3 linked regions of the Homo sapiens genome follow. The protein of the gene in region 2 interacts with the protein of the main gene of each other region in a pairwise test. Each region holds a gene or a part of one and is shown on either strand. Other genes may lie near its edges.

Region 1 (7,128 bases), on a different chromosome or scaffold from region 2:
TCGCGGTCTCCGCGCCGCTCCCCCTCGTCGGCGCGTTGGCAGTCATGCCTATTGTTAAGTCAAACCTACTCGCTTGTGGAGTCAGCTTTTGCCTGCCTCCTCCTTTCCCCCCCTCCCAGGCTAACTCAGGTGAGATGGAGCCGCTATAGTCCTGAATTCAAGGATCCCTTGATTGACAAGGAATATTATCGCAAGCCAGTGGAGGAGCTAACTGAGGAGGAGAAATATGTTCGGGAGCTCAAGAAGACTCAGCTCATCAAAGCTGCTCCAGCAGGGAAAACAAGTTCTGTGTTTGAAGACCCAGTCATCAGGTTAGATGGAAACAAACACTTGTTACATGGACTGGGACTATCCCAGGGAGGGTTTCTGGTGAGGATTCTGTGATACAGCCTTGGAGAGCTAAACGTGTTGCTTTTCTCTTTGAAGTAAATTCACCAACATGATGATGATAGGAGGAAACAAAGTACTGGCCAGATCCCTCATGATTCAGGTAAACAGCACTTCCCTCCTCAGTCATCTTTCTTGCCCCCCTACCCCGTAGCCTTGTACTTGGTACTTTCAGTGTAGCTTAAGAGCAAATGGATTCATGTATCTATTATTCAGATTAACTTCCCTGCATGTGTACGGGCTTTAATGAAGCCCTGTAAGAGTCAGCAACTGCCATTCCTTGGTGTTTCGGAAGTAAACACACAATTAAAAAAAAAGGAACAAATAAAAAATAAAACAACTGCCATTCCCCACCTCACCCCCCACCCCCTCCATGCCACAAATCTCAATCCACTCTTTCTGTCCTAGTCTAGCAAAGGGGGAGGCACTTAAAAACTTTGTTTTGGATGTGCTGTGAGAGGAGCTGCATTGCCAGCGCAGAACCAGAGGATGGGAGTAAAGGGCAAGGTACTAGCTTGGCTGGGTAAACCCTTTAGGGAGCCTGGGGCAGCCTCTTCCACCATATTCTTTTGCAGACTCTGGAAGCTGTGAAAAGGAAGCAGTTTGAGAAGTACCATGCCGCTTCTGCAGAGGAACAGGCAACCATCGAACGCAACCCCTACACCATCTTCCATCAAGCACTGAAAAACTGTGAGCCTATGATTGGGCTGGTACCCATCCTCAAGGGAGGCCGTTTCTACCAGGTGAATGAATGGCCAGGGCAAGAAAGCAGGGCCCTCCACATGTGAAACAAGATAGGTGGTGCTTGGGAGTTGGGTCAAGATTGATAGCTTTCTAGCTGGTGCAGTGGGATTGCACCTGTAATCTCAGCACTTTGGGAGCCTAATGCAGGATAGCTTGAGCTCAGGAGTTAAGAGACAGCAGGGCAACATAGGGAGATCCCGTCTCTACAAAAAAAACAAAAAAATTAGCCAGGTGTGGTGGTGTGCATCTGTGCTCCCAACTACTCAGGAGGCTGAGGTAGGAGGATCACTTGAGTCCAGGAGGTCAAGGCTGCAGTGAGTTATGATTACGCCCCTGCATTCCAGCCTGGGCAAGAGAGAGAAACCTTGTCTCAGAAAAAAAAAAAAAAAAAACGGCTGGGCACGGTGGCTCACACCTGTAATCCCAGCACTTTGGGAGGCCGAGGTGGATGGATTACCTGAGGTGGGGAGTTCGAGATCAACAAGGAGAAACCCTGTTTCTACTAACAATACAAAATTAGCCAGGTGTGGTGGCACATACCAGTAGTCCCAGCTACTTGGGAGGCTGAAGCAGGAGAATCGCTTGAACCCAGGATGCAGAGGTTGCAGTGAGCCGAGAGCACACCACCGCACTCCAGCCTGGCAACAGAGCAAGACGCCATCTCAAAAAAAAAAAAAAAAAAAGAATTGAGACTGTTACGGTCCACTCATCTGAGTCCTGTAGCGTAAAAATTATAGGCAGAAGGTGGAAGAGAGTGAAGAAGTATCTAAGTGACATCTGGGAGCCCACCTCCCTTCGCCTTCTTCTGTCAAGCATCCTGTGTGTCCTAACCTGTAAAATTCTCATGGCGAGGGACTATTCATATCCTGTCTTTGTATGCCAGTGTTTGGCATAGTGCTTGACCGATAACTGATGCTTCATCAGTGTTTGCTGAACAGTACTAGGTATCTCTTTCATAGCATTTAATTATATTTTATTGTCCTGAGTTTTCTTGTGTTCTCCTTTTTCAATATCAACTCCATGGGGTAGGGACTTCATTATTGTCTGCACTCTCGTGTCTGGCATGGTACTGACGCATAGTGAGGGCCTGACAAATGATTTTTGGACACGGGGTCTTGTTTTTGGTTTTCTTTAACTGTTTGTATAGGGTCTTTTTGTTTTTAACTTTTTTTTTTTTTTTTGAGATGGAGTTTCGCTTTTGTTGCCCAGACTGGAGTGCAGTGCTGTAATCTCAGCTCTCGGCTCACTGCAGCCTCCGCCTCCCGGGTTCAAGAGATTCTCCTGTCTCAGTCCCTGCCCACCCCAAGTAGCTGGGATTACAGGTGGCCGCCACCATGCCCAGCTAATTTTTTTGTATTTTTAGTAGAGACAGGGTTTTGCTGTGTCTGAAGACTGAAGGGGTCTTGTTTTTAGGTACCTATGGTCTGAGGTGGATTAGTCACCCCAGCTAATGGGGCTTTTCCTATTTGGTTCTTATAACAACTTGGTAGGACTACCATTTAGGAGGGAAAATGGCCAGTGCTTTTCTTCTTTTTCTTTTTCTTTTTTTTTGAGACGAAGTCTCGCTCTGTTGCCCAGGCTGGAGTGCAGTGGTGCATTCTTGGCTCACTGCAACCTCCGTCTCCTGGGTTCAAGCATTTCTACCTCAGCCTCCCAAGTAGCTGGGATTACAGGCGCCTGCCACCACGCCCAGCTAATTTTTGCATTTTAGTAGAGACGAGGTTTCACCACATTGGCCAGGCTGGTGTCGAAATCCTGACCTCAGGTAATCCACCTGCCTCAGCCTCCCAAAGTGCTGGAATTACAGGCGTGAACCATCGTGCCTGGCCTTCTTTTTTTTTTAATATATGGAGACAGGGTCTTGTTATATTGACGAGGCTGGTCTTGAACTCCTGGGCTCAAGCGATCCTCCTGCCTCAGCCTCCCAAAGTGCTGGGATTACAGGTGTGAACCACAGTGCCGGGAGAGGCCAGTGCTTAATTAGTATTTGCTGAATGAACGCCTCTTATGTCTGCTACACTGGGGTCACCTGAAGGTGAGGGAAGCTCGAAGAAAAGACAGGCCCTTCTCCCCAGGCCTGACCAGGGCTGGTCCAGAGGGAACATGTGGCTACTCCTTAGAATTCAGGGAGGCAGGAGGCCCCAAACCCTGGCAGACTCTTGGACCAACTTGCCTATGTCCTGTCTCACCCAGGTCCCTGTACCCCTACCCGACCGGCGTCGCCGCTTCCTAGCCATGAAGTGGATGATCACTGAGTGCCGGGATAAAAAGCACCAGCGGACACTGATGCCGGAGAAGCTGTCACACAAGCTGCTGGAGGCTTTCCATAACCAGGGCCCCGTGATCAAGAGGAAGCATGACTTGCACAAGATGGCAGAGGCCAACCGTGCCCTGGCCCACTACCGCTGGTGGTAGAGTCTCCAGGAGGAGCCCAGGGCCCTCTGCCGCAAGAAACAGTGTGAGCTACTGCCACGCTGAAAACTACCTGTGGGTTAAGGATGTAGTTCCTTTGTAAGGGTGGGCAGGCCTCGTAAGAAAGATGTAGCAGCATATTCACTATCCGTTAATCCTTCTTTCTTTGAGGCTGGAACTTGCTCTCTCTGCCCCTATTTCCTTGTAAAGAGGGAGCACATTGACTTGGGAATTTCCTCCAGGAAACTCAGGGCTGTTTTCTCTTCCCTTAGGTTGGGGCGGACCTTTGGATATATAAAGGAAGCAGTTTTAGTATCAGAAAAGATTTATTAGAAAATTCTCACGCTGAACTGGTGTAGCATGTGGTGCAGCATTCAGTGAAACTGGCTGGAGGAAATAGGCTTGTTTCCAGAGTTGTCCTTATACAAAATGTATAAAAAGCAGTTTCTGGTGTGACTTGTGCTCTGCCTCCACCCCTTGACATCCCAAAATATCCCACCAGTGGCTATGCTTACCCATTTTACAGATGGGTAAACTGAGGCACCAAGGTAGTAGTTGCACTAATGGTTACACAGTGCAGTGGCTCTTGGGAGTTGCCCTTCTCTGCCTGGCCGTGGTGGGTTGTGGTGGGGAAAGGGGCTCAGGGCAGGACCACGGCATAAGTGGGAAACATCTCACCAGGAGATGGGAAAGTCTAGAAGGGAAGACACTCAAAGTCTGGAAGGGAAAAGTCTTTGGGTGAGGCAGAGACTCCACTGCCAGCTTTAGAGGTGGGTAGAAGAAAGGCCAGTGCTGGTGAGGAAGCCCTGATCTGGAGGCCTAGTCGGAGACTTCGCTGTAGTAATACTTGTGGGCAGCTGGCGTTGTCTTCCAGCCGGCCGCCCGGAACTCAATGATCTCCAGCAGCAGCAGCTGGGCCAGGGAGCTGAGGCCAGTTGGGAGCAGGAAGCCATCCCGGATCAGCACAAAGAGCTCATCCATGCGCTGCCCATTCATTTTCTCCAGCTGCTCCCCAACCCGGTGCAGCTGCAGCACCAAACAGTCCACCTGCAGGCGACAGTGTGGGTAACACAAGTGAACTGGGGCAGTGCCAGCCTCTCACACAGCATTTGCCAAGTGCCAGGTGCTGTGCTTTGCCTTTACACTCATTCCCTTGCTCCCTCCTTACCATCCAGTGGGTACTTCCACATCTTACACAGAAAGAAATGAGTTCCGGGACTTGCCTGAGGTCCCTCATCTGGCCAGGCTCCACTCAAGCCTGTCTCCAAACCACTTCTTCATCCCACTCTCCTGCCTCCCACACACTGCCTGACCCTGGTTTGGCTTTGGGGCCGTCTGTACCCACAGCTAGCCATGGCTTGCACAGCTGCCATCATACGTTGGCTTTCTGACTGAGAAGGAAGCTACTGAGCCAGTAGGTTTTGGCTGCTCTCTATTGGATAAACTCCAGACCTGGCAGCTTGTCCTATAACTGACAGGCCTTAAACACCCCCACAGTCCTGCCCCAGAAGTGACACAGTCCTCAGAGACCTCCGTGAGCAGTGGGCTGACACACGGCTGAGCTGGACTGTCCATCCTGCAGCCTTCTGTGCTTGTGCCAGGGCTGGGGCCACCCACCTCCTCCTCCTTGCTCAAACTGTCTGGCTGGGCCAGCCGGAAGAGGCAGTCATAGACAGGGTTCACCAGGGCCATCATGGGCATGTTGTTCACCTGTGAGGAAGAGGAGGGGTCAGAGCACCAGGCTTAGTGGCCAAGGGGAGCAGTCCAACCTGGGCCTCAGGAAACAGGCCATGTCTGCCTCCCAGGGTGGCTGCCGGGGCCTCACCCTCAGGTAGTCAAAGATGTTGCAGATAAAGGTGACATAGCAGACCCAGCCCTGCAGGGAGCGTGCTCGCAGCTGCTCCCGAGCCTGGTACTCCTGCTGCAGCCGGTTGAGGAGTCCACGTCGGAAGACACTCTGGCCTGCTTGTTTACTCTCTGCCTGTGAGCCAGGGAGAGGAAGGTGAAGGGTGGGGGGCGGTGCCCCTGTAACCCCACCCATCCTATGCCTCTCTCTCTCTTTGAGCTAGACCCTGTGCATCTCTGTCCTGCAGGCCAGGCCTTCTGCCCACTCCTGAAGCACCTTCCTCAAAGCAGCTTCCTTTCCTCTCCCAACCCCCAACCTGAATGATGGCGTAGCACATGCGTCCTGCTTCCTTGCTGAACACACAGTCCTGCAGAGAATGGTCCACAATCACATTGGCCACTTTCTCCAAGTCCACAGCACCCGGATCTAGGGGTAGAGATAGGAGGGGAGTCTAGAGCTGCTGCTTTATCACATTTGTGTCCACCCGCTTCTAAGAATTTGAGATATTTACAGTAGAGCACTCATATGCTTGAAGTGAAAGAGATCAGAAATCATACAGAGGACAGTGGCTCCAGTGGTGCAATTGGTTAGCGCATGGTACTTATAAGAAATCATGGCCGGGCGCAGTGGCTCATGCCTGTAATCCCAACGCTTTGGGAGACCGAGGTGGTTGGATCACCTGGGGTCAGGAGTTTGAGACCAGCCTGGCTAACATGGTGAAACCCCATCTCTACCAAAAATACAAAAATTAGCCAGGTGTGGTGGCTCGTGCGTCATCTCATGTCATCCAAGCTACTTGGGAGGCTAGGGCAGGAGAATCGCTTGGACCTGGGAGGCGGAGGTTGCAGTGAGCCGAGATCATGCTATTGCACTCCAGCCTGGGCGACAAAGCAAGACTCCGTCTCAAAAAAAAAAAAAAAAAGAAAAAAATAAAAGAAATCATACAGAGGGCCTGGTGTGGTGGCTCATGCCTGTAATCCCAGCACTTTGAGAGGCTGAGGCGGGTGGATCACCTGAGGTCAGGATCAGGAGGTCAAGACCAGCCTGGCCAACATGATGAAACCCCGTCTCTACAAAAATACAAAAAATAAGCTGGGCACGGTGGCGGGCCCCTGTAACCCCAGCTACTTGGGAGGCTGAGGCAGGAAAATTGCTTGAACCTGGGAGGCGGAGGTTGCAGTGAGCCAAGATCGTGCCATTGCACTCCAGCTTGGGCAAGAAGAGCGAAACTGTCTCAAAAAAAAAAAAGGGAAAAGAAACCGTACAGAGGACAGTAACCATACAAACAGCTTTAGCTGTCTTGTCTTCTGGTTGCCCAGTCAGAGAAAATGGGGAGGGTTATGTGGCTAGTAGGGACCAATCAAAGTAAGAATGTAGTTTCTCAGGAAACACATCTTTTCCTGGCACTAGGTTGAGGAAGGAATACTGACCAGGACATGCCTCCAACAGCAATTTCACAAGAAAAAGTGTTCTTATACTACACACATGCAAACCCCCAACAAGAGAGGGCCACATAGGGCCTCCCAACAGGCTCGGCTTGACACATGATGGGTGTTGCTAATTATTAGTTGAAGACAAACCTCTGTACTGCGTGTTACAGCGGGAAGGCATCAGGCGAGAGCAATTACTATAGCTCCTCTGGCAAACGGAATATTCTCCATCTTCTGTCTCAAAGCAGGCAACTGTGCATTCAAGAGACGGGGCTATGGCAGCACAGAAACCAGCAATTCAAATGTAAG
Region 2 (12,484 bases):
AAATGGTAGACTATGTTTGCTAATAAGGCTGTATTTTAAAGTAGGGCTAGTAAGAGGTAACATATTCTGATCTGTCTGAAATTAGTCAAAATTTCTAGAAATTTAAAATTTTTCACCAGGTATAGTAGTTCATGCCAGTAATCCTAGTGCTTTGGGAGGCCAAGGCAGGAGGATTACTTGAGGCCAGGAATTTGAGAACAGGCTGGGCAACATGGCAAGACTCCATCTCTACGAAAATATTTTTGTTTTAAATTAGCTGGGAATAGTGGTGCATGCCTGTAGTGCTAGCTACTCAGGAGGTTAAGGCAGGAGGATGTGGTGGCATGCACCTGTAGTCCCAGCTAAGTGGGAGCCTGGGGTGGGAGGATCACTTCAGCTCAGGAGGTTGAGGTTGTAGTGAGCTATGATTGCACCACTGCACCTTAGCCTGGGCAACAGAGGGAGACCCTGTCTCAAAAAAAAAAAAATTTCTAGAAATAAAAATTCACTAAACATAAAGAAATGCCAACTATTTATATTTTGATTACTTAAAATAACTTTTCAGGCTGGACGCTGTGGCTCACGCCTGTAATCCCAGCACTTTGGGAGGCCAAGGTGGGCGGATCACTTGATCGAGGTCAGGAGTTCAAGACCATCCTGGCCAACGTGGTGAAACCCCGTCTCTACTAAAATTACATAAATTAGCCAGGCATGGTGGTGCGTGCCTAATCCCAGCTACTCAGGCGGCTGAGGCGGGAGAATTGCTTGAACCCAGGAGGTGGAGGTTGCAGTGAGCCAAGGTTGCGCCATTGCACTCCAGCCTTGGGCTACAAGAGGAAAACTCCGTCTGAAAAATAAAAAAATAAAATAAATTTCAGTGTATTTATTTATATTGTCCCACATTTTTGGTGGTTCTCATATTTGCCTTTCTAATTATGACAATTGTTTTCTTGTGTAGGTATTATCAAAACCAGTACCACTGCCGAGAAAACAGATGAAGAGGAGAAAGGTAACTACTTTTGGATGCCCTTGGCAAGAGACGGTATGACCCAGGGCTTGCCTTCCTGGAGCCAGGGGCACTCCAAGCTACAAGATCCAGGAGATGAGAGGAATCAGAGAAGGAATAGTCAGTGAGAGGAGGAGAACAAAACAAGTCCGAAAGCGGTAGCTCACACCTGTAATCCCAGCACTTTGGGAGGCCGAGGTGGGAGGATTCCTTTGGGCCAGGAGTTCAAGACCAGCCTGGGCAACATACTGAGACCCCATCTCTACAAAAGATTTCAAAATGAGCTGGGTGTGGTAGCACACACCTGTACTCCCAGCTACTTGGGAGGCTGAGGTGGGACGATTGCCAGAGCCCAGGAATTCTAGACTACAGTGAGCTCTGATTGCTCCACTGCACTCCAGCCTGGGTGACAGCAAGACCCCATCTCTAAAATAAATAAATAGAGACCTATCAGTGTGATGGTTTTTCTCCAGCCGTGCTTGACTGCCCAGGTGCTAGTGTGGAGAGGGAGAAAGAGTGGCTTCATAAGCCTGGGGTTTGCCAGATGAGTATGAAGATCTACTGGTTTCTTCCTGACAGAGGACAGAGCTGCCCAGTCCTTACTCAACAAGCTGATCAGAAGCAACCTTGTTGATAACACAAACCAAGTGGAAGTCCTGCAACGGGATCCAAACTCCCCTCTGTACTCGGTGAAGTCGTTTGAAGAGCTTCGGCTGTGAGTATTCGCTCCTTTCAACAGCTCTTCGTTGCCAGTCTCTCCCCACATAAAACTTAGCATCTGAGAGATTCTTGTGAGAATTTTACTTTTAAAAATTTAGTGTATTTTTTCCTTTTTTTTTTCGAGACAGAGTTTCGCTCCTGTTGCCCAGCCTGGAGTGCAATGGCGTGATCTCAGCTCACTGCAGCCTCTGCCTCCCGGGTTCAAGCGATTCTCCTGCCTCAGCCTCCCAAGTAGCTGGGATTACAGGCGCCCACCACCATGTCAAGCTAATTTTTTGTATTTTTAGTAGAGACGGGGTTTCACCATGTTGGCCAGGCTGGTCTTGAACTCCTGACCTCAGGTGATCTGCCTGCCTCGGCCTCTCAAGGTGCTGGGATTACAGGCGTGAGCCACCGTGCCTGGCTATTTTTTTTCTTTGAAAAGAAGTCACATGAATAAGTCACATGATTCAAAAGTCAAAAAGTATGAAAAAATTTGCAGTATTAATCTCCCACCCTTGTGTCCTTGGCTATCCTGTTCTCTTGGTAGGAATTTTTTAATGCTTCAAATTGATTTATCATAGCTAAAAGTCTTATTTCTCTTATACTCTTAGAACTTTCAATAAAATATTGGCTGACAGGTGATTTCTGGATGTCAGGAACATTTCTGATTAGGTAAGCCCTTAAGTGAGAACATGTGCTATTTGTTTTTTTTTTACAAAAAAAAAAAAAAAAGGCCAGGCACAGTGGCTCACACCTGTAATCCCAGCACTTTGGGAGGCCAAGGCAGGCAGATCACAAGGTCAGGAGTTCAAGACCAGCCTGACCAACATGGTGAAACCCTGTCTCCACTAAAAATACAAAACTCAAAACTTAGCCAGGTGTGATATCACAGGCCTGTAATCTCAGCTACTCAGGAGGCGGAGGCTGAGGCAGGAGATCACTTGAACCTGTGAGGCGGAGGTTGCAGTAAGCCAAGTTCGTGCCACTGCACTCCAGCCTGGGCAACAGAGCGAGACTCTCTCTCAAAAAAAAAAAAATATATATATATATATATGTATATTTAGACTATAGGGTTTACAGTCTTACAGTTTATCTGCTTTTTAAAAAATCTGTCAAATCTGTTTTTGGTTTGTTTTTTTTTTTTTTTTTTTTTTTTTTTTTTTTTTTTGAGACCAAGTCGTGCTCTGTTGCACAGGCTAGAGTGCAGTGGCGTGATCTCAGCTCACCACAACCTCCACCTCCCAGGTCCAAGCGATTCTCCTGCCTTAGCCTCCCGAGTTAGCTGGGACTACAGGCGTGTGCCACAACACCCAGCTAATTTTTGTATTTTTAGAAGAGACAGGGTTTCACTATGTTGGGCAGGCTGGTCTCGAATTCCTGATCTCATGATCTGCCCGCCTCGGCCTCCCAAAGTGCTGAGATTACAGGCATGACCCACTGTGCCCGGCCTTACGTTTTAGGTTTACTTCAGTAAATTAATAGAGGATTAAGTGTGGATCATTGTGTTATATACATGCCACTGTGCTGGATGTTACAAGGAACACAAGACCTACTTATTATTCTTGCTGCCTGCCAGGATCACAATCATAGAAAGTAGCTGATGAATAAGAATATGGTGGAATCAATGGATTCTTTGCCTTAGTTCAGCAAAATCTATAGTATGGCCACTATGGACAAATTGAAGCCACATTCCTTCCAGCTATTACCACTGAGAAAGAGACACTTAAAACAAGAAAGCTAACTAGTTGTTAAGTAATCTTGAAGAACAATTTTTTATTTTTATTTTTTATTTCTATTCATTTATTTATTTACTTTTGAGACTGTCTCACTCTGTTGCCCAGGCTGGAGCGCAGTGGCACAATCTTGGCTCACTGCAACCTCTACCTCCCGGGTTCAAGCGATTCTCGTTCCTCAGCCTCTCACGTAGCTGGGATTACAGGCCTGAGCCACCACACCTGGCTAATTTTGGTATTTTTAGTAGAGACAGCGTTTCATCATGTTGGCCAGGCTGGTCTCAAACTCCTGGCCTCAAGCGATCTGCCCGCCTCAACCTCCCAGGCTGCTGGGATTACAGGCATGAGCCACTGCACCCAGCCTTATTTTTTTATTTTTAAAAATAGAGATGTGGTGTCACTGTGTTGGCCAGGTTGCTCCTGAACTCCTGTGGTCAAAGAGTCCTCCTGCCTCAGCCTCCAAAATTGCTAGGATTACAGGTGTGAGCCACTGCACCTGGCCCAATAACTTTTTTTTTTTTTTTTTAATAGGATGAGGTTTTACCATGTTGCCCAGGCCAGACCAAAAATGTATTTTTAAACAGTTATACTTTAGGTCGGGCACGGTGGCTCACGCCTATAATCACAGCACTTTGGGAGGTCAAGGCAGGTGGATTGTCTGAGGTCAGGAGTTCGAGACCAGACTGGTCAAAATGATGAAACCCCATCTCTACTAAAAATACAAAAAAATTAGCCGGCTGTAATGGCACATGGCTTGTAGTCCCGGCTACTCAGGAGGCTGAGGTAGGAGAATTGCTTGAACCCAGGAGGCGGAGGTTGCAGTGAGCCGAGATCATGCCGTTCGTTGCACTCCAGCCTGGGAGATAAAAGCGAAACTCCTTCTCAAACGGAAATTATGCTTTTCTATGTGTTTTCTCTGTCAAGGACTTTATTCACCAAATCTGTCATCTCCACTTTTATTTTTAAGCTGTATCAGGACAGCTAGACATGTGGTATGATTTCCTTAGAGTGACAGTTTGCTCCTCCAAGTATCAACTGCCTTTTTAAATTTCTTCCCTTTAGAAGACGTGAGCTCTCAGTTTAACCACTGATGAATTGTCCTCTGTAAAAGACAGGTTCTCTCTGATTTAGTTGTTGGTAGGAAAAGGAAACAAAGAATGAAACCAAGATCACCTAATGTACTTGGTCTGCTTTGTACCTAAAATATTTGAGTTAATCTGCAAAATCAAAGAAAACTGAGTCAGTGGAAGCTGTTGGATCATTTGAGTCCCAATTAAGGTAGTGACTTTGTTTCCTTGGCAACCAAGTCAGAAGCTGCCGAGTGTCACAGCATTTTCTCCCAAATGGAAGATATGAAAGATTATGTTTTTAAATTTCTTTGTGTCTGAGAACCAACATACGCCAGAGAATTTGCCTTTTAGAGAGCCTGCTAAACTCCAAGGAAGGCTTAGAGAACAGTTGGGTTGCCTTTTCTTTAGAAACAATCTGGTATGATTTTTCTTAAACATCTTGTCAATTTAGAGGTAGCAGAGAGCTGATTGTAAATGCAATGTAAGAGCAACTTAAATTGATAATTCTTGTGTAGCTGTTTACATAAGAAGTTGGTGTCCAGGTGCGGTGGCTCACGCCTGTAATCCCAGCAGTTTGGGAGGCTAAGGTGAGTGGATCTCTTGAGCTCAGAAGTTCATGACCAGCCTGGGCAACATGGTGAAACCTTATCTCTACAAAAAATAAAAAAAAATTAGCCGGGTGTGGTGGCATGTGCCTGCAGCCCCAGCTACTCAAGGGTGGGAGGATCTCTTGAGGCCTGGGAGGTGTCGGTTGCAGTGAGCCCAGTTCACACAACTGCACTCCAGCCTGGGCGACAGAGTGAGAACGTCTCTCAGAAAGAAGTAGTTAGTGTTTGTCTGTTTATTTTGATTAGACCTAAGTGAATCTGAGCATTTGTAAAGTTTAGTAGGTTAATCGAACCACCTTTATTTACTGTATATCAGCTACTAGAAACTGGCTTCATCAATTTTCTTTTTTTATGGCCGGGCGCTACAGCTCACGCCTGTAATCCTAGCACTTTGGGAGGCCGAGGCAGGTGGATCACCTGAGATTAGGAGTTCAAGACCAGCCTGGCCAACATGGCGAAACCCTGTTTCTACTAAAAATACAAAAATTAGCCAGGTGTGGCAGTATGCGCCTGTAATCCTAGCTCCTCAGAAGGCTGAGGTAGGAGACTCGCTTGAACCCAGGAGGCAGAGGTTGCAGTGAGCCAAGATCACGCTATTGCACTCTAGCTTGAGCAACAGAGCAAGACTCCATCTCAAAAAAAAAAATTTTTTTTTTCTTTTTTCTTTCTTTCTTTCTTTTTTTTTTTTTTTTTAAGAGATGACCTGGCCTTGTTGCCCAGCCCAGAGTGCAGCGGGGCAATCATGGCTCGCTATAGTCTCTAACTCTTAGCCTCAGGCAATCCTCCTGCCTCAATCTCCCAAGTAGCTAGGACTACAGGTGCATGCCACCATGCCCAGCTCATTTTTCTTTTTTGTTTTGTTTTGTTTTGTTTTGTTTTAGAGACAGGGTCTCACTGTGTTGCCCAGGCCGGTCTTGAACGCCTGGACTCCTCAAGCAGTCGTCCCACCTAGGCCTCCCAAAGTGCTGGGATTACAGGCGTGAGCTACCACGCCCAGCCCATCAATTTCCTTACCTATTGATTGTCTGGAGTATTTGCATAGCTGGCTTTGGAAGGAACATGGAACAAAAGGACTTCTAAATCTTAGCAGTATAGTAAATAGTGTTTATTTTCATTTATTATTTACTTTAGAGTCCCACTCTGTCACCCTGGTTGGAGTGCAGTGGCTCAGTCACAGATCACTGCAGCCTTGACCTCCTGAGCTCAAGTGAGCCTCCCACCTCAGCCTCTTGAGTAACTGGGACTACAGGTGTGTCCAGCTATTTTTTGTATTTTTTTGTAGAGACGAGGTATCACCATGTTGCCCAGGCTGTTCTCGAACTTCTGGCCTCAAGCAGTTGGCCTGCCTTGACCTCCCAAAGTGCTGAGATTACAGGCATGAGTCACTGTACCTGACCTGTTTTTAGATATATCTTTTATAATTTATGTAATGCTATGAATTAATAACCACCACCCTTGCTGTGTCCAGGGAACACTTGTCTTCCAAGGCCAGCCAGATTTGCGGGTCTGCTGAAAGCATTAATTTCTCTAAGAAAAGAAACCATTCTGTATTTTATGAATTATAGAATAGTTGCAGATTAAGATTCCTTAGGGAAGGGCGGTAGCTTGGTTTGATTTGGTTTGGTTTTTGACAGTGTTTTTTTAAGGCATAGGAAAATACGTCTGACAGAGGTAGGAGGCATCATTCCTTTCTATAGAAAAAGATAAGATTCTAGGCCTCTAAAACAATTCTAACTTCTAGGCATCCATCCTCTGTCTTCCTGGCTTCCTAGGAAACCACAGCTTCTCCAGGGAGTCTATGCCATGGGCTTCAATCGACCCTCCAAGATACAAGAGAACGCATTACCCATGATGCTTGCTGAACCGTGAGTATGCAGATGAAGCGCATCTCACCCAGTGTGATTAGATCAATCTTCCCCAAACTGCGTTTTTGTGCCTGAGAACAGAAGGAGCTGTTTGGGGCCACGTGTTTCCTCAGGAATACAGCTTAGGCAAGTGCAGAGAGAATCGGATGGAGTTAGCTACAGTTTCTGCCTTTCCCACTTAACAATAGAAACTTATAGAGAAAGGTAGTGCTTTATTCCATGCTATCTTAAAAACTGGGCTTAAGGCCGGGCATGGTGGCTCACTCCTGTAATCCTAGCACTTTGGGAGGCCGAGGCGGGCGGATCACCTGAGGTCAGGAGATTGAGTCCAGCCTGGCCAACATGGCAAAACCCTGTCTCTACTAAAAATACAAAATTAGCTGGGCACGGTGGCCCAAACCTGTAATCCTAGCACTTTGGGAGGCCAAGGTGGGCGGATTGCCTGAGCTCAGTAATTCGAGACCAGCCTGGGCAACATGGTGAAACCCCGTCTTACTAAAATCAAAAAAAAAAAAATATCCAGGCCTGTTGGCATGTGCCTGTAGTCCCAGCTACTCAGGAGGCTAAGGCAGGAGAATTGCTTGAACCCGGGAGGCAGAGGTTGCAGTGAGCCGAGATGGTGCCACTGTACTCTAGCCTGGTGACAGCAAGACCCTGTCTCAAAAAAAAAAAAAAACTAAACTAAAAATACAACAATTAGCCTGGCATGGTGGCACGTACCTGTGGTCATGTAGCTGAGGCAGGAGAATTGCTTGAACCCCAGAGGCAGAGGTTGCAGTGAGCCGAGACATGCCACTGCACTCTAGCCTGGGAAACATAGACTCTGTCTCAAAAAAAAAAAAAAAAAAAAAACTGGGTTTAAAAAATATTATTTTGATGTGAATGGTGTTGCAATAAATTCAAAAACAAACAAAATATTATTTGGAAATTTTTGAGACCTACACAAAGGTGTAAAGAACAATACCAAGAACACCTCTGTAGCCCTATCCTGCCAAGAAAGGAAGCAGGTCCAGTTGATAGTTGAAGCCCCTGAATTCCCCTCCTTCCACATCCTTCTCCCACCCTGACAAGACTAAGTTCCTTTTGAGACAGGGTCTCATTCTGTTTCCCCATCTAGAGTGCAGTGGTGCAATTACAGCCCACTGCAGCCTCGACCTCCTGGGCTTAATTAATCCTCTCACCTCAGCCTCCGGAGTAGCTGGGACTATAGGCATGTGCCACCATGCCCAGCTGACTTTAAAAAAACTTTTTTGTAGTTTGAGAAGCTGAGGCAGGTGGATCACTTGAGGTCAGGAGTTTGAGACCAGCCTGGCCAACATGGTGAAACCCCGTCTCTACAAAAAATACAAAAAAATTAGCCGGGCTTGGTGGCGCACACCTGTAATCCCAGCTGCTAGGGAGGCTGAGGTGGGAGGATCGCTTGAACCCAGGAAACAGAGGTTGCAATGAGCCAAGATTACACCATTGCACTCCAGCCTGGGCGACAGAGTAAGACTCTGTCTCAAAAAAAAAAAAAAAATTTGTAGAGACAGGGTATCACTATGTTGCCAGGGCTGGTCTCAAACTCCTGGCCTCAAGTGATTCTCCAGCCTCAGCCTCCCAAAGTGTTGGGATTATAGGCATGTGTTACTGCACCTGGCATATTTATCATTTTTTCTTTTTTGAGATGGAGTCTCCTCTGTCGCCCAGGCTGGAGTGCAGTGGTGCAATCTTGGCTCATTTCAACCTCTGCCTTCCAGGTTCAAGTGATTCTCCTGCCTCAGCCTCCTGAGTAGCTAGGATTACAGGCGCACACCACCACACCTGGCTAATTTTTGTATTTTTTTGTCTGTTCGTTTGTTTTTGGGATGAAGTCTCGCTCTGTTGCCCAGGCTGGAGTGCAATGGCGCGGTCTCAGCTCACCGCAACCTTCGCCTCCCGGGTTCAAGTGATTCTCCTGGCTCAGCTTCCCGAGTAGCTGGGATTACAGGTGCCTGCCACCATGCCTGGCTAATTTTTGTATTTTTAGTAGAGATGGGGTTTTACCACGTTGGCCAGGCTGGTCTCGAACTGCTGACCTCGTGATCTGCCTGGCTCAGCCTCCCAAAGTGCTGGGATTACAGGCGTGAGCCACCGCACCCAGCCTAATTTTTGTATTTTTAATGGAGGTGGGGTTTCACCATGTTGGCCAGGCTGGTGTCGAACTCCTGACCTCAAGTGATCTGCCCACCTTAGTTTATTTATTTATTTATTTATTTATTTTTTTGTGAGATGGAGTCTCGCTCTGTCGCCCAGGCTGGAATGCAGTGGCGCAACGTCTGCTCACTGCAAGCTCCGCCTCCCAGGTTCATGCCATTCTCCTGCCTCAACCTTCCCAGTAGCTGAGACTACAGGTACCCGCCACCACGCCCGGCTAATTTTTTATATTTTTAGTAGAGACGGGGTTTCATTGTGTTAGCCAGGGTGGTCTCGATCTCCTGATCTTGTGATCCGCCTGCCTCGGCCTCCCAAAGTGCTGGGATGACAGGCGTAAGCCATATTTATCTTTTTTAATGACAACCATGCCACCTATTCCCATGATGCTGGGTCCCATAAAATGGAATGTAAAAGTTCCCTCTAAAACATCCACCTGACTTAGCATCTTGTCCATAAAACTGGGGAAAGGCACACACAGAAGGAACCAAATTCTGGGAATGCATCATGGCTCAGCCAAAAATATTGCTGGGGTCTTGTCTGGGCACAGATCTTACTCTGCACACTTGATTTCCCTGTGCCCCTTGGGGTGCAAAACTGGGGTCCTTTAGCTGTGCTAGAGGCTAGAATGAGAATTTCTTGGTGTGAGCCCATTTAAAATAATCATTTATTTTACAATTTAAGCAGCTTTTTAACAGCGTATAAAAAAATGTATGAAAGTAATTTGTGCTCAATGGAGAAAACCTGGGTAATATAGAGAAGCACGAAGGGGGAAATATGCCTTTCATTCAGAAAGAACATTTTGACATGTTACTGAGTTTCACCAATTTAAGTTTCATTTCTGTTCTTCCTTGATCCAGCCCACAGAATCTGATTGCCCAGTCTCAGTCTGGCACTGGTAAAACAGCTGCCTTTGTCTTAGCCATGCTCAGCCGAGTGGAGCCATCAGACAGATACCCCCAGGTGAGGGCTTGCGGGGCTGGGTGTCCTAGGTTGCCTGCCCTGGGGAGCGCAGTGCCATCTGGTGAGGAGTAACGAGAGGTCTGAAGCTTCTGACACCTTAGGCTGTGGCTCAGGCAGAGCAAGTTCCTACACCAGGCCCTGACCTGGGAGAATGTGCTTGAAAGCAGCAGCCTTAGACCATGGCTTGCAAAGGCCTCTGCCAAGCCAGGGCTACCTGCTGCAGGCTTCAGTCTATGGCTGAAAGGTGGGCCTGGATGGGAGGACATGCTTCCCTGTGCTATTCAAGTGCTAATAACATCAGCATACTGGGTGCCTTCAGGTCTGTTACCAAATGGCTCTCCTAAACTCATCCTTTATGATTTTTCTGTCAGTGTCTGTGCCTCTCCCCAACATATGAGCTGGCGCTTCAAACAGGAAAAGTGATTGAGCAGATGGGCAAATTTTACCCAGAACTGAAGCTTGCCTATGCCGTTCGAGGCAATAAATGTGAGTACGGCAGGCGACAACTGAACAGTGAGCAGGGTAGGGGGTTGGGCGTTTGAATTTTGAAGATGCGATGACCGTATTCAACTTTCTAATTCAGTCTGACCCTGGAGCCTAACTGTGTTGCTCTATTTGAATCTATTTGAATACCTGCTAATTTGTTAACAGTCTTTTTCAGTCTTAAAATAAGATTTTCGGTTGATTAAAAAAAAAAATCCACGCATGGCTCACAGAGTTCTTAATATCTAGAGTTCTTCGCTCAGAAGGTAGAGTTTTGAATTTAGCGTCCAGAGTTCTGGGACCTGCTACCAAAGAGGGATTAACAGGACTGAGGATGGAAGGTTGGGGTCAGCTCCCTTTCTTTAAAAGTAAGCAAAACCAGGTACAGTGGCTCACACCTGCAATCCCAGCCCTTTGGGAGGCCAGGGTGGGAGGACTGCTTGAGCACATGGTTCGAGACCAGCCTGGGCAACATAGTAAGACAAAAAATAAAAAAAAAAAAATAGCCAAGCGTGGAAGTGCCAGCTTGTAGTCCCAGCTACTTGGGAGGCTGAGGCAGGAGGATCGCTTGAACCTGTGTGGTCAAAGCTGCAGTGAGCCATGACTGTGTCACCGCACTCTAGTCTGGGCAACAGAGTGAGACCCTGTCTCAAAATAAATAAATAAATAAACATAAAAAGAGTTGGATGATGTTGGATTATAGGAGGAAGAAGAAGGGAACTGATGCTTATTGAAGGATTGCTGTGTGGGATTTGATCCTGACCACAGTGCACTGAGATAGGTGTCATTCTGCCCACTTCACAGCAGAAGAGACCAAGACTGAGGGGAACACTCATGTGTGTTTTGAAATCTGGAAATAACTTGTTCTCCTAGTCCTAGAAGGATGGGCAGGGCTTTGATTTCCAGAGCTGGCTTTGCCTTTGAAATACCTATGAAAATCACCTGGGTCTCCACAGTGGAAAGAGGCCAGAAGATCAGTGAGCAGATTGTCATTGGCACCCCTGGGACCGTGCTGGACTGGTGCTCCAAGCTCAAGTTCATTGATCCCAAGAAAATCAAGGTGTTTGTTCTGGATGAGGCTGATGTCATGATAGCCACTCAGGGCCACCAAGATCAGAGCATCCGCATCCAGAGGTAGGGATCTCGAGGGTGGGGGACTCCTCAGACTCCCCATCTGCAGTGTCTTCTCCCTTCACTTCAGACGCCTCCTCTGGCTTCTGCCTGGGTCTTGGCTCTCGTACTCTCAGCAGCATTTGTTTGACGGGCCATTTCCATGTCAGCGCTGATCACAGTCCCTCCCAACCTGGGTTGAGAAAGGAGACCTAGGGACTCTTCCCCAACCCTTGTCCCCATCCCAGGCCTGCTGCTCCTCCTCCCCAAGATGCTCCTCCCCCATCAGCCTTCCTGGGCATCTAGACCCTCCCAGCTGGGGAGGCTGTGCTTCCGTTGCTTCCCAGGGCCACCTGGGGCCATCTACCCGGGCCTTCCCTTGCAGGATGCTGCCCAGGAACTGCCAGATGCTGCTTTTCTCCGCCACCTTTGAAGACTCTGTGTGGAAGTTTGCCCAGAAAGTGGTCCCAGACCCAAATGTTATCAAACTGAAGCGTGAGGAAGAGACCCTGGATACCATCAAGCAGTACTATGTCCTGTGCAGCAGCAGAGACGAGAAGTTCCAGGCCTTGTGTAACCTCTACGGGGCCATCACCATTGCTCAAGCCATGATCTTCTGCCATGTGAGTAGCAGCGGCAGTGGCAGGCCTGGCCCCTCCCTCTCAGCCAGCTCCCCACAGGGCTCAGGAGGACTGGATGCCCCTGAGCGCCATGGAAAGAAGGGAAGTGCTTTTTGAAGATGTAAGAGACAGGCTCTCCTTTAGTGGGGGTAATGGTAGTATCCCAAGGGATA
Region 3 (12,484 bases), on a different chromosome or scaffold from region 2:
TGGGACAAGGAGAAGGGCAGGAGGATGGGAGAAACGGGTAGAAGTGGGGGCAACACACACATCCAGGATGAGGTATGGGTAAGATACATCTTCAGGCTTGTCTCACACTTGAGAGATTCACTGATAAGGAAAGCCAAGCCAGAAAATCTTGAGTGCCCCTTCTGTGCTAAAGTCATTCCCAGAGATCCCACAGAGTCACCACTCAACTGAGCGTCTATGTATGAAAAGCCCAAAACACAATGCTTGATGATGACCCAGCCAGAAACTCTGAAGAGTTTCTCCGCTCTTTAGCTCAAGGTCAGCTTTTTAACAGGCTGTCTTCTAGAAGGTGCTAGAGAAGAGCAATTTATTTTGAAATCTGGTCACACACCAGATTCTGATTTTGTGTTGTCTTTTCACAACAGGCCTGCTGTGTTTATGACTTGGTTGAGACAAACTTTTTTTTTTCAAAAAAAGGTATCGCATCCTTCTGTTAGATGTGTTGTTGGCAACGGTTGCTAGGGAGAGCTGGGTTCAGTTACAGACACACTGATGCCGGCTCTAATAATACTTTGCTCTGCATAGCTCGGATGCAGACACCTCTTGGCTAAACAGAGCACACACATTTCAACAGAGGAGGGCTTGAACTTGTACTACCCAAGCCTGTCTCAGCAAAGGAGCATTCCCAGAGCCCACGTGGACGTCCCGGGGCAGTGACAGGGCAGTGCTGGGTGGAGAGGGCTCAGGCTTCCATTCCTGTCATTCCAAAGGTCCCATAAAAAGAGGCACACTCGTTCTTCACTTCTCTGTGAAACTGGAGCCCCTTCACCGCCCTGTATCACACCACAATTCCCTGATGAGGATCCAAGGAAACTTTTGGTTCCTTCTCTAACCCAGGCACCCTGGGCACCCCACATTCTCCTGGAAGTCGGAAACAATCAATGCACATCATCTAGTTAGTCAGTCTAGTCTGCAGTCAGGACCCTGCAAAGCCAGAGAAGTTGGGAACCTTGGTGGGAAGGTGTATGGGGAGACAGGCTGAACTGCGAAGTGTGGCCCAGCCTCTGGTACAGCCTGGCACCGTGGGTGAGAATGAGGCCCTTTTCCTAAAACATGTGATAGCTGTTCCGACACACATCCCAGGCCAAGGAAAAGGAAAATGGGAAAAGGAGCTGAGGACAGAGAGAAATGGAGGCAGCGGGAGAGAAGAGGTGGCTTTCATCTCATCAAGGAGGAGGTTCAGGGTGATGACAAGAAGAGCCTGAGGCTGGGGGAGTGGAAGGCATGTTCTCAGCAGCTGAGGCCTCCTGTGTAATGGGGTTCTCCTGCCAGCTCAGACTCGGAGTTTTCCCCCATGGCTCAGCAGAGAGCCCAACACCTGGCAGGTATTTCTTGACTGGTTCGCGGCATGACAGGCAGAGCCAGCTGATTCATAAGTGGCCGCGATGAACCAGTTCGGTGTCTCTGGGGTGTCTCCTCAACAGTGGTGTTCCACCCTGGCTAACGAATGCCCAGGTTGCGTCCTTGGAGAATCTAATTCAACTGATTAGGGGTAGGCCCCCTGCCTGCTGTGTTCTCATGATTCTCATGCATAGCGAGGCTGAGAACCACTGACCTAAAGAAGAGCCAGTATCTGAAATGCAATATTCCCAGGCCAGACCTCCACTCTGACCATCACACTGATGACAGACTGTGCCTTAGTTTGCCCATCTATGAAACAGAGCCACCACCTACAAACCATCAGTCATTCAATGCCTTGTGACTTCCCACTGTGGTCCCTGGACTAGAGCACTAGCATCTACCAGGAGCATGTTTGAAACGCAGAATCTCAAGCCCATCCCAGGCCTCTTGCATCAGAATCTGCATTTAAACAAAATCCCACGTGATTCATATGCACATTCCGGTTTGAGAACCCCTGACCTAATAAAGACAACATGCTTGGCACATTAAGAAATGTCTGTTTTGTTGTGGGGTGGGGGGAGGGGGGAGGGATAGCATTAGGAGATATACCTAATGTTAAATGACGAGTTAATGGGTGCAGCACACCAACATGGCACATGTATACATATGTAACTAACCTGCATGTTGTGCACATGTACCCTAAAACTTAAAGTATATAAAAAAAAGAAAAAATGATTAAAAAATAAAATAAAATAAAAAGTAAAAAAAAAAAGAAATGTCTGTTTAATAAATAGAATTTTACTTACAAGGACACTACTAATAAAAGGGCCACATTTCAGGTAAAAAGGAATTGGCTTGGATGTAAAAACTGAAGACCATTTTGGAGCTGTGGGATTGGTGACGGGGTCCTCTGAGACCCCAAGGTCTCCAGCACTGTCATGGCTCATGAGAATGGTGCTTCTGGGTTCCTTGAGATAGCAGTGTTGAGTCTGGCTGGGAAGGGTTAAAGGACCTTAAACCTTCTCCCTTCTCCCACCCTGCACTTCCCACTCCATGGGGGCTGCACCCCAGCTTGGCAAGAGCCCTCAGACCTCTGCTGCAGAATGTTTACCACATCTGCGGTTGCCCCTCTCCCTCCATGCTGCCGGCTCCCATCACTGAAGCCCTGGCAGCAAGAGAAGTCAGCCAGGGAGAACCAAGTGTAAAGACCACTGCTGGGAGCTGTGCTAAGGAGGCACTTCACACCCTGGCCCCTTTGTAGCCTGCATTGCTAAGCCGGGGCCCAGAACTTGTGTGTGGAAGTGGTAGCTGAACCTGATCCTATGGGGGCATCTCGGAGGCTGCCAAACCCAACCAGGTGCTGGTTGGGGACCGAGAGCCAGATGGGCCTTGAGTGGATGGAGCTGAGTGCAAACCTCAGGGAGGAAGCAGGGGGCAGGGCTGTGCAGGCCGGGTCTAGAACTGCCTGCCAGGAAGGGATGCAAACATAGTTTGCCAGAAAATGAAGTCAGGTGAAAAAAGACATCCCTGGAGGTGTTAAGAGGGAAAGCAGGTTTTGCTGAGCCCAGCCCATCGCTTTCTTTTCTTGCACCTCTCGGGTTTGGGTGGTGAGGGGCCATGAATTATGCTGTCCAGAAAAGCCCACTCCACCTCTGTCTCCTTGGCTGCAGAGAGAAGGCACAGGGCCTGAGGAGGCTCAGCCAGATGTGGTTCAGGTGTCCTCTGGGCCTTGGAGTCAGGGGGCCATTGTGGGATCAGGGCAGCCCCGCACCAGCACAGTCCACCCGCCTTCCCATGGCAGCTGAAAGGGCCTTGTCTAGCCACCCAGGAGGTCTGAGAACGCAGATCAAGCCTCTGGTTATACTCTCAAGGGGCTCCCTCCTCGGCTCACATGAAAGCTGGGACTGCAGGTGGTAAACAGGGGTGAGTGGTGGCCTATGTGGACATTTAGATTTCTAAAGACCTGACCCGCAGATACTCCACCCAGGCAAATGGCTGGCTTCCTCCACTGTGGGGGAGGAGAGGAGGAGCTGCTCTGAAACCTCAGAATGTGAGCCATGACTGCCTTGGGTGGGGGGTTCCCTTCTTGCCCTGGACTTCAGCTGTCCCTGCAGGCCCCTAGCCCGGGAGAAGGGAGGCTTCCAGCGCCTTCCTTTTCAGACATCCATTTCTCCTTGACGACCGAGGGCCCTCCAGCACCAGGCACTATGCAGCCCCTGGGATACAGAGGTGCAGAAAGTAGAGGGGTTCCCACCTCCCAGAGCCCAAGATGGGGGGCAGTAACGGCACGCACCCCAGTTTGTCACTGTGGATTCATGTGGCCATTGGTTTAAGTTCAACTCCTTCACTGCAAACCTTTTAAGGACAAAGCTGTGCCCAGTGACTGACTGCTGTATCCTCAGTCCCCAGGCTGGTGCCTGGCACACTAGAAATACTCAGTGAATACTAGGAGGGTGACTGAACATTGTGGCTGCAGGATGAGAGGTGCTGGGACAGGAGAAGGGCCAGTGTTTCCTGGAAAGTGGGGCCCTAGCACCACCTGAAGTAGGAGTGTGAGATGCTTCAGGGGGAGGTGCATGCTCAGAGTGGGACAGAGAAGTGAATTCTGGGGGAGAGTTCGTCCATGCAGGGTGTACTGGGAGGTTCAGCCTGGCTGATGGGGGGTGGGGAGCAGGATGTGGAGTGCCAGTTCTCTGCTCCAGAGACAAGGTGGCACCTGCAGAACTAGGTCTCTTGGGCTGGTCCCAAAGCCTGCATCACTCATGACAGACCTACTATGGAGCCACTATATGGGGTGAGTGGGTTTGTGAGGACTCAGGGGGACCCAGGACAGTTTCCTACTAGTGGCAAGGCCTCAGGAGCATGAGAAAGGGAAAGGCTCACACGGGGTCCCTCGTGCCCCTGCCCGAGACCCCGGCTCATCTCCAGTAGTGCAAAATCGAGGGTACACTGATGAAGGCTGTTGCTTGCACTTTCCCAGGGAACTATAGAGGCCAAGCTCCAACGGATGACAAACGAATCAGGTCTGGAATCCTTGCTTCCCAGCTTTCAATTTTGTGTTTTCTTCCCTGCTGTAGTGTTTGCCAAACTGTCTCTCAGCACACTAATCCCACAAGTAGTTCTTAACTGGGGAATGCAGAGGACTTTGTTGAGTTAAACGGAGCCAAACAGGTTCCCTTCCTGCTGGGACATCTGGAGCCTGTCCTAAACCAGTGCACGTTGTGGTTGATTGAGAGGTGAGTGCAGGGGCCATAGGGCCCCCTTTGTGGCTGACTGTTCCCCAGGATTGATGGTCCGCTGGACACTTGTGGGTGAGGCCACCCTTACCACGGCAGGTTGGAAGAAATACCCGATCTGAGATGGCCCCTGCAGCCAGCTGCCCTCCCCAAGTGCCCCATGCCCTGGGTGCCTGTCTGCCACCGGGTCTGGCTGGGTTACTTGGAGCTGGCAACCACTGTCTAGAACTCTTGCCCCATCCTGGCCCTTTTTTGAAAAACAAAACCCAAAGCCGAGACCATAGGCTGATGCTGTCCCTGACTCCCCTGTGCCGGGTGCTCTCTGGCAGACAGGCTTCTCTGCCCGCCACTCTCCACACGCTCCCAGGACATTCCGGCCCGCGAGGAACATGCCCCATGTGCAAATCCCTCAGGTAATGCGGGAATTCGTCACCAGGGGAGTGCGGGCGATCCAGGAATGGGAACCTGATCAGGGCCTGGAGCAGGAGAGAAGCAGCCCAGGCTGGCCAGGGAGGGCTCATGTTGCAGTGAGTGCAACTCACATGCAGAGGAGAGGGTGGGTGGGGATGGAGCCCTGCCGGCTGCATGTAGAGGTGGCCTTAGCGGCAACTTCCTCCCAGCTTTTAGGGAAGACGGCAGACTGCGAACCACATGGTTAAGGTGAGGGTGGCCATATGCCCTTGTTTACACCTGTTGTCTAGGCATAATTATGAACTGAACCCCCTTTGACTTTCACAAGTGTTGCAGTTTGGATGATCTATTGTATGGTCACCCTAGTTAAGATGGCCCTATAGCCTGCCATTCTACTTCATTACTTGGAAACTACCATTTTATCTCATCTGGACCAGAAACTCACTTTGTATCTTAACTAGTCTCTAAAATACAAAATAGGAGGAAAGGAGACATGGCTCTCCCCCAGCCAAGAGTCTCCAAGGACAGTCCCAGGACCTGATGTGGCCACCATCCCATGACCCTGCTATCTCTCCCTGACGTCACCAGTTTTGGGGCCACCAGCTCATCTGCTACTGCCCATACAGGCAAGCAGGTACTTGTGAGATGAAACATTGCTAAGCTCCGTCCAAGTGCACGCGCCTACTCCCACGACACACTCATGCTGATAGAACCACTGGACGTGGGCCTTCATGGAGGAAGCAATGATCAGGGGTGGGGTTACACTGTCAGAGGTGAAGGGATATTAAGAGGGAAAGAGCAAGGATGAAGACAGTCTTGCATCACCGTGACTTCCCTCTGCCCAGGAGCCATAGTGTGTTGGTAAACAGACTATCCCTTTTCTGCTCATGTGTGGCTTTACTCAAACCCATCTCACTACCAGTGATGATCAACTGCATATCTGCAAAGGTCTAAGGACCTAGCCCTGGGTGGAAGGAGGAGGAAAAGAGAAGTCCACAGCAAGTTCATGTCTGCTTGGATGTAGAGAGGTCAAAGCACATAGCCAGGTTGAGACCAAGAGCCAGCCTCTTATGAAAATAGAAAGTGGGAAAGGCTGGTTAAACATAAAGCACCTATAAAATTATATTGGTCCATTGTAACCAGGGAGCCCACACATAAACACACACAAATCCAGCCGCTCATTCCTGGCCCCTTAACTGCCTTTGTGTTTTCTATAATTAATCGGGCAAGGGCGGAACTTGGGAAAAGTCCAACTGTGGCCAGAACTCGCAGCCTTCTCGCTAGGAATAACTCACCGAACGCAGAGGGGCAGGGGGCGCGGGGCGGTGGTGGCCGGCGTCCAGTTACCTGCAGCATGTTGAGGAGCAGGCTCCGGAACTTGGTCCCCTCCACCATAAAGAGCGCCATCTTGTCGCAGAGCTTGGCAGCGGTGAAGGCGAAGCTGCGGTCGGACACAGCCTTCTGGTAGATTGTGCGCACGATCTCGCCCAGCATCTCCTCGGAGTTGGTGGAGTTCTGGGCCTCCTCCATGAAGGTGGTGAGCTTGGTGTCCACGTCGCTGCTGTTGTTCCGCATGCTGTTCAGGATCTCGATCAGCTTGTCCATCTTGTTCTGCTGGGGAGTGGTCGTCTCCACGGCCACTTCATCCTGGGGGTGTCGGAGACAAATGAATGTGCCTGAGTGAAGCCGAGGTCTCTGTGCAGGGGTGGCCTGGTGGAAAGAGGGTGGCCACCCCCAGAAAGCAGGACCAGGCCTACTTCCCTGGATCTGAGGGCTGGTCCCTCTGGGAACCTCCACCAAAGACCCCTCATGCGCCAAAAGCTCCTTGTTGCCTTTTTTCTTGGCCCCTATGACATCCAGGGCTGATACTGTTTTTGGGTTCTAGCTCCTACCCAGGATTCTCATATACATTGGCTTTTTTTGTTTATTTGTCCATCAAATATCTTAATCTAGAAAAGATTTAATGGAAATTATGAAAGAGGAAATAAGATAACAAATATGAAATCGGGCCAAAGAGAAAATGAGGGTAGGAAGACTTGGTCAGGAAGGCAGGTCAGATCCAAAATGCCTGCAGTGGTGGTTAAAAGCGGCCCAGGCAGTGGCCACCTTGTCCCCTACACCCTCAGCTCCAAATGCCCAATGATGACTTGTTCTCTGGGCATAGGGCCCCCTGTGGGCACAGCCCTGGCTTTTTGTCCTGTGGAGACTGTGCTGGTCTTCTGTAGACATATGCCACACACCAAGGAATCCTCCCATGTGCCACTAAAACAGTTGGGCTTCTAGGAGGGATATTACAAGTAAAAAGCCCTACAGCCTTATGAGATTTCACTGCAACTAGGACCAGACCAGGGGCTTGAAGAAGAAAAAAATGTCATCTTATTGTATTGACTCATTCTTGGTGGCCAAGAATGGGAACAACTTAACTGCAAGGAAGTGAGATCTGGCTGGAAGGGCAGGGTCAGGGTCATGAAATGAGATCCAAGCTTGGTCTTCTGTCCCTGACAATAGAAGCTCTGGCCTAGAAGGCACAGACCAAGGCTCTAGATCCCACTCTCTGCCTCTAGCTGTGTGGCTTTGGGTAAGTGATTTCACTCTCTGGGCCTCAGTTTCCTCATAGGTAACACAGTGAGGTTAGACGAGAAAATCTATAGCTTTCCTTGAGCCCTTCCATGGTGGGATCAAGTTCCAAGGGCAGCTAGTCTCTGGCTTGAGAACCAAACACTCAGGAGGCTGAGGCAGGAGAATGGCATGAACCCGGGAGGCGGAGCTTGCAGTGAGCCGAGATTGGGCCACTGCACTCCAGCCTGGGTGACAGAGCGAGACTCCATCTCAAAAAAAAAAAAAAAAAAAAGAAAGGGCTGAATCCTGGGTGAAGGAATAGGGTGGCCTAGTTCTTCTCCTCAAACCCAACCACCTCTTCAGGGAAGGCTACTCTGAGTCCCTGGGTAAAGTTAACAGGACACAAATCCCCACCCCAAGAGACATCTCACGCTTTACCTGTCTCTTGAAAGAGAGAAGGAAAGTGTTGCTCTCCCTGATGAAAATGTTTAGGATGTGGCTGGTTGGCCACCTAGGATTTACCCTTTTTTAGAGTGAGCAACTAGCAGAGTGGGGAGTGACCCAGCCTGAGCCTGAGCCCATGTCTTCTTGGTCCAGGAGTTCAGGAGGCCTCACCTGAGTGGAGTCCTTGAAACTGATCTATAGGTGCTATAGATCTACCTTCTCTGTTCCATTCCCCCATGTACCCCTCTCTTCCGACCATCTGGGCCCCAGGGCAGGAACAGTGGTCTGCATATAGAATAGGAATACCCACAAGAACATATCTGTACACGTTATTTCATTTAACCTTCACAGTCTCTCAGCAAGGTGTGTAGTATTAACACCCATTTTACAGATGAGTAACTGGGGCTCAGGGAGATTAGGTGACTTGCCCAAGACCACCCATCCAGTCAAAGGCAAAGTGAGGTCTGAGCCTGCTCAGCTGCGCTCTAAAGCCCGTGCTGTTTCCACTCTGCTGCCCTGCAGTTACATTTAGCAGAACTCTAGAGGACTCGGTGGAGAGGATACTGGGAGCAGCATCTCATCTTCAAGAGTGGATCCAAGAAGAGGTCTGACCTGCCTTATCCTGCCTGAGTGTGGACCCTGGGCCTGGCCTCTGGGGCAAGAGCTTGAGGAGAGTCGGCAGTAGGGGAGGATGGAGGAGAAGCCCAGAACATGGAGCTCTGCGGAAGCCCCAGGAGGAAGCCTCTGTAGGCCCTGCTGCTGTGTGGGAATGGCTGTGGGCAAGTTGGCCTTTCTTGGGACAGTTCCTCTCCAGGGTGACCTTTCCTGTGCCCCTGCTGGGCAGTGGGGTCGGGGGTGGTGGCACTGGGGTGAGCACAATGGACTTACTGCTGCAAGTACAAATCCCCATCCCTCTTCTGGAGGTTTAGGGTCATCTCCTGAAGCTACAGGCCAGGCCAGGACCAGGGTGCAGAAAGAGCCTCCTGGGAGCAAAAGTAAGGAGGCCTCACTCTCGGGTTCATGCTGGCACAGGTAGGCACCTGCGTGATGCTGAGAATGGAGCCACCTTACGGTGTGCACTGTAGAGCACTCCCTGGCCTCTGGGTGATGAAGGCGGGAAACAGGAAGGCTGGAATCAGCCTGCCCCCACTCTGAACAACTCACCTCTGCTCCCCATTCTGGCAGAGACCACTGCCTGGATGGTACTCACCTGTAGAAAAGCTTCAGTTCTTATTTCATAAGCTCCATGTTTCCCCAAGTGCTCTTCAGCACAAACAATATCTAACCCTAGAATATGCTCCCTGCACCTCCCCCATCACTCCCAGGCATGCATCTCTTCCCCCTACTCCCTTGGGCTGGGGGCTGGTTCCAAGTGCCCACCCTGGGCCTCTTGGAGTTTGGAAGGTGAAAAGCCCAAGTGTGCTGGAGGGGTTCATGATGGCCCTACCTGCTGGCAGTGGTGGACCAGTGTGGTTGGTCCCCACAGTGACCGAAGCCCCTGCTTCCCTGTACATGGCTCCCTAGACCCTCAAACCCACAAGGCTCTGCACTGTGCCCACCTACCAAAGTGCCTACCTCTTGCTGTCCTCCCTGGTGCAAGAGAAGAACAAAAATTCAATTACCGGTACCTTTTCCTTTAGCCTTCGCCGCAGTCTGTCTTTGGAAGACTGGAGCAGGGTAATTTTGGGCCGCTCCCCGATGCGCTCGGGAAGAATACTGTCTTTACGTTTTGTCTCAACCTCTGGCCCCCCTGACTGCTGTGGGGGCAGCCGCTCAGAAGCCACCGGGGCCAGGGTGTCAGGGCTGCGGGGGGCCTCAAGGCTGCTGTGCCCGGTGTCCCCTGCAGTGTCCTCCAGTTTTGGGTTCTCGATGGTCATGGTCTCTTTGGCATTGCGGTGTGCGCCTGCCTCCCCCTTGTCGCCTGGTGGGTGCTTCATGTTGCCATGGTGCCAGCGCCGGTTCTGGCTGTAGCCATGGTGAGTGGGCCTCCCTGAGGGGTGGGGTGCTGAGCCCCCCTGGTAGGATTTCTGGTGGTCCCTGTTGTGTTTGGCACTGCCTGGCTGGTGGTCACCATGCTGTTGGGGCTTGTTGCCCCCCGGAGGTCTCTGCTGCCGCCTGCAAACGGAAGAGGAAAGACAGAGAAGGCGATCACTGGGCGGGCTGGTCAGAGTCCCTGTGCCCAGCCGCCAGAACAGGAAGTCATTGCCTTGTCCATATATTCATTCTTCCAACAAACACTTCCTGAGCACCTTCTACGTGCCAGAGTCTGTGACAGCCCCTGGGGATACAGCCGAGAACAGGCAGACCGGTCCTTGCTACTGCAGAGGACCAAAGCCAATTCTTTCCTTAAAATCAGTACTTTATTCGCTTACTAGAATATGTGTGAATGCAAGCATGTGGAACAAAATTAAAAAGATCCAGTAGCAGATAACAGTGAACCCTCCTGCCTCTGACTCTGTCATCACATATGGCCTTTGGAAGCAGCCGTTCCACGTGTGTGAATCTTCCAGACATATTCTATGCATGTACCAGCAAAGATGCATACGCAGACCTGCTTCTTACAAGCACCTTCCTATGAATGACTGTTCACCATAATGTTTTTTGAAAAGTTATATCCCTTTCAAACAACTTTTTTTTTTTTGGAACATTGTCATTTTCACCCCCAAACCCACAAACTACATATGCTATAACAAGTTTTCATGGGCTAAATTGTGTCCCCCATCCACCCCGCAAAACTTCATATGTTGAAGCCTTAACCCCCAATACTTCAGAATGTGACTGTATTTGGAGATAAGACATGATGGATCACCTTTAAAGAGGTGATTAAATTAAACGAGGCTGTTAGGATGGGCCCTAATCTGAACTGACTAATGGCCTTATAACAAGAGGAACCTTTGACACACAGAGACACCAGGGAGGCTGCATGCCCAGAAGAAAGACCACATGGAGACACAGCAAGAAGGTGACCATCTGCAAACCAAGGAGACAGGCCTCAGAAGAAACCAACCCCACCGACACCTTCATCTTGGACTTCCAGCCTCCAGAAGTGTCAGAAAATAAAATGCCTCTTGTTTATGCAGCCCAGTCAGTGGTACTCTGTTACAGCAACCTAGCAAACAGATACAGAAGGAATATTTAACATGATGGGTGTAGGTCAAGACAGGCTCATCTGACAACACTTTCTAAGCACAGGGAACAGGTGTGAGTTGTGCAGCAGGAACAAACCCCAAACTTTTGAGTTGTGGCCAAAAGGCAAGTGAAGGGGTGGTGAGGGACATTCTCATGACCCTTCTGGCTGGCTCAAAGGCTGCTTCCTGCCACTGAAAGCACTACTATGTTCAAACTCCATTTTACCCTCAGGGTGTTTTCCATGCCACAACTTTACTGGAAGTGCAGTTGGAGCACAAGATAAGCATGAATTCTGCAAAGGTTGTAAAATAGTGGAAAGATTTTGCAGAAAGATAATGTTAGCTTCTAAAGAATAAGCGCTGCACCTCCTCCGTGACCTATCTTGGGTACCACAGACCTTCATTGCATTGCATGTTATGAACAAATTGTATTTATTTACTTACAACTTATTGCTTATTACTTATATAAATTCAATTTTAATATTTACTTGATACATTTTTATCTGTGAAAAATTGAGGGTATCCTGGGTTGGGGTTAAATGCATTATTTTTTTCCACTAAAATGAATAAAATTTTTTTTTTCACTGAAAAGCCTCCATTGAAAAGCTTAGTAGCTCATTATCCCCAATGGGGATGACAGTCCCTTTGACACCACCCTGTTGGGGTGCTGGGTACCTTGTCACTGTCTAGGCCCCTCATTGGGCCTCCGCTGGAGTGGTGGGTGGGGGTGTGGCTACAGTTCCTGCAGAGGTGTTTGGCTGGAGGAAAGTAGCTACTGTCTCGAGTTTTCTGTCTTGCTAGGCTGCCCCTTCCCTGGTCCTCTGGCTAGAAAGAGTGGACTTTTGTTGGGGCTCCGTTTGTCTGCTCAGGCCTCATGGTGTTTCTGGGTCTCCAGTTTCTTTAGCTCCAAGTCTGGGATATCTGAGCCAAGAGGAAAACCCCAGGAACTCACCAGTGTGTCATTCTTCAGTTCCCAAGGTCCCTGGCCTGTCTGTCTTCTTTCTACCTTTCAGAGTCTTCTTAGGTTTCTTTTTATATACAGTGTCCAAGGTTTGGGGTTGTCTATATTTATTTCAATAATTTAAGAGTCATTATTAAAATATCTGTAAAAATCTGGTACCCTGAACTGAATCCTGCTGACTAGGCATACCCTGGGCCCTTCTCAGGAGGCCTGTGTGGCATTTTTCATCCTTGGTGTCCAAGTTCAATCTTGTTGGTTTCTGATATACATTCCTGGGCAAAAGCACTGTTGCCTTGACACTTGGGTGGGAGAGGCAGCCCCTCCATTCCCAAACACACCCCCCTCCTCACTGGCATTGCTGAAAT

Evidence for each region.
Region 1: the proteins of DDX19A (region 2) and MIF4GD interact in binary tests that used the Homo sapiens proteins (3 or more experiments, as listed by UniProt).
Region 3: the proteins of DDX19A (region 2) and CTIF interact in binary tests that used the Homo sapiens proteins (3 or more experiments, as listed by UniProt).

Annotation. Positions count from the first base shown.
Region 1 is NC_000017.11:75,262,378-75,269,505, forward strand, and holds the end of MIF4GD (MIF4G domain-containing protein), read right to left. Parts: intron 7,093-7,128; coding exon of another isoform or gene 6,970-7,092; intron 5,816-6,969; coding exon 5,706-5,815; intron 5,525-5,705; coding exon 5,369-5,524; intron 5,254-5,368; coding exon 5,161-5,253; coding exon of another isoform or gene 5,074-5,160; intron 4,591-5,073; coding exon 4,363-4,590; 3' UTR 3,851-4,362; downstream 1-3,850. Other genes in the region: MRPS7 (small ribosomal subunit protein uS7m), read left to right, coding at 120-311, 427-490, 963-1,130, 3,325-3,546. UniProt on the Homo sapiens protein: Functions in replication-dependent translation of histone mRNAs which differ from other eukaryotic mRNAs in that they do not end with a poly-A tail but a stem-loop. May participate in circularizing those mRNAs specifically enhancing their translation.
Region 2 is NC_000016.10:70,354,548-70,367,031, forward strand, and holds part of DDX19A (ATP-dependent RNA helicase DDX19A), read left to right. Parts: intron 1-937; coding exon 938-988; intron 989-1,564; coding exon 1,565-1,700; intron 1,701-2,298; exon of another isoform or gene 2,299-2,336; coding exon of another isoform or gene 2,337-2,359; intron 2,360-6,870; coding exon 6,871-6,963; exon of another isoform or gene 6,964-7,089; intron 7,090-9,995; coding exon 9,996-10,098; intron 10,099-10,469; coding exon 10,470-10,584; intron 10,585-11,385; exon of another isoform or gene 11,386-11,464; coding exon of another isoform or gene 11,465-11,537; coding exon 11,538-11,715; intron 11,716-12,076; coding exon 12,077-12,314; intron 12,315-12,484. UniProt on the Homo sapiens protein: ATP-dependent RNA helicase involved in mRNA export from the nucleus.
Region 3 is NC_000018.10:48,755,580-48,768,063, reverse strand, and holds part of CTIF (CBP80/20-dependent translation initiation factor), read right to left. Parts: intron 10,146-12,484; coding exon 9,659-10,145; coding exon of another isoform or gene 9,653-9,658; intron 6,675-9,652; coding exon 6,375-6,674; intron 6,369-6,374; exon of another isoform or gene 1-6,368. UniProt on the Homo sapiens protein: Specifically required for the pioneer round of mRNA translation mediated by the cap-binding complex (CBC), that takes place during or right after mRNA export via the nuclear pore complex (NPC).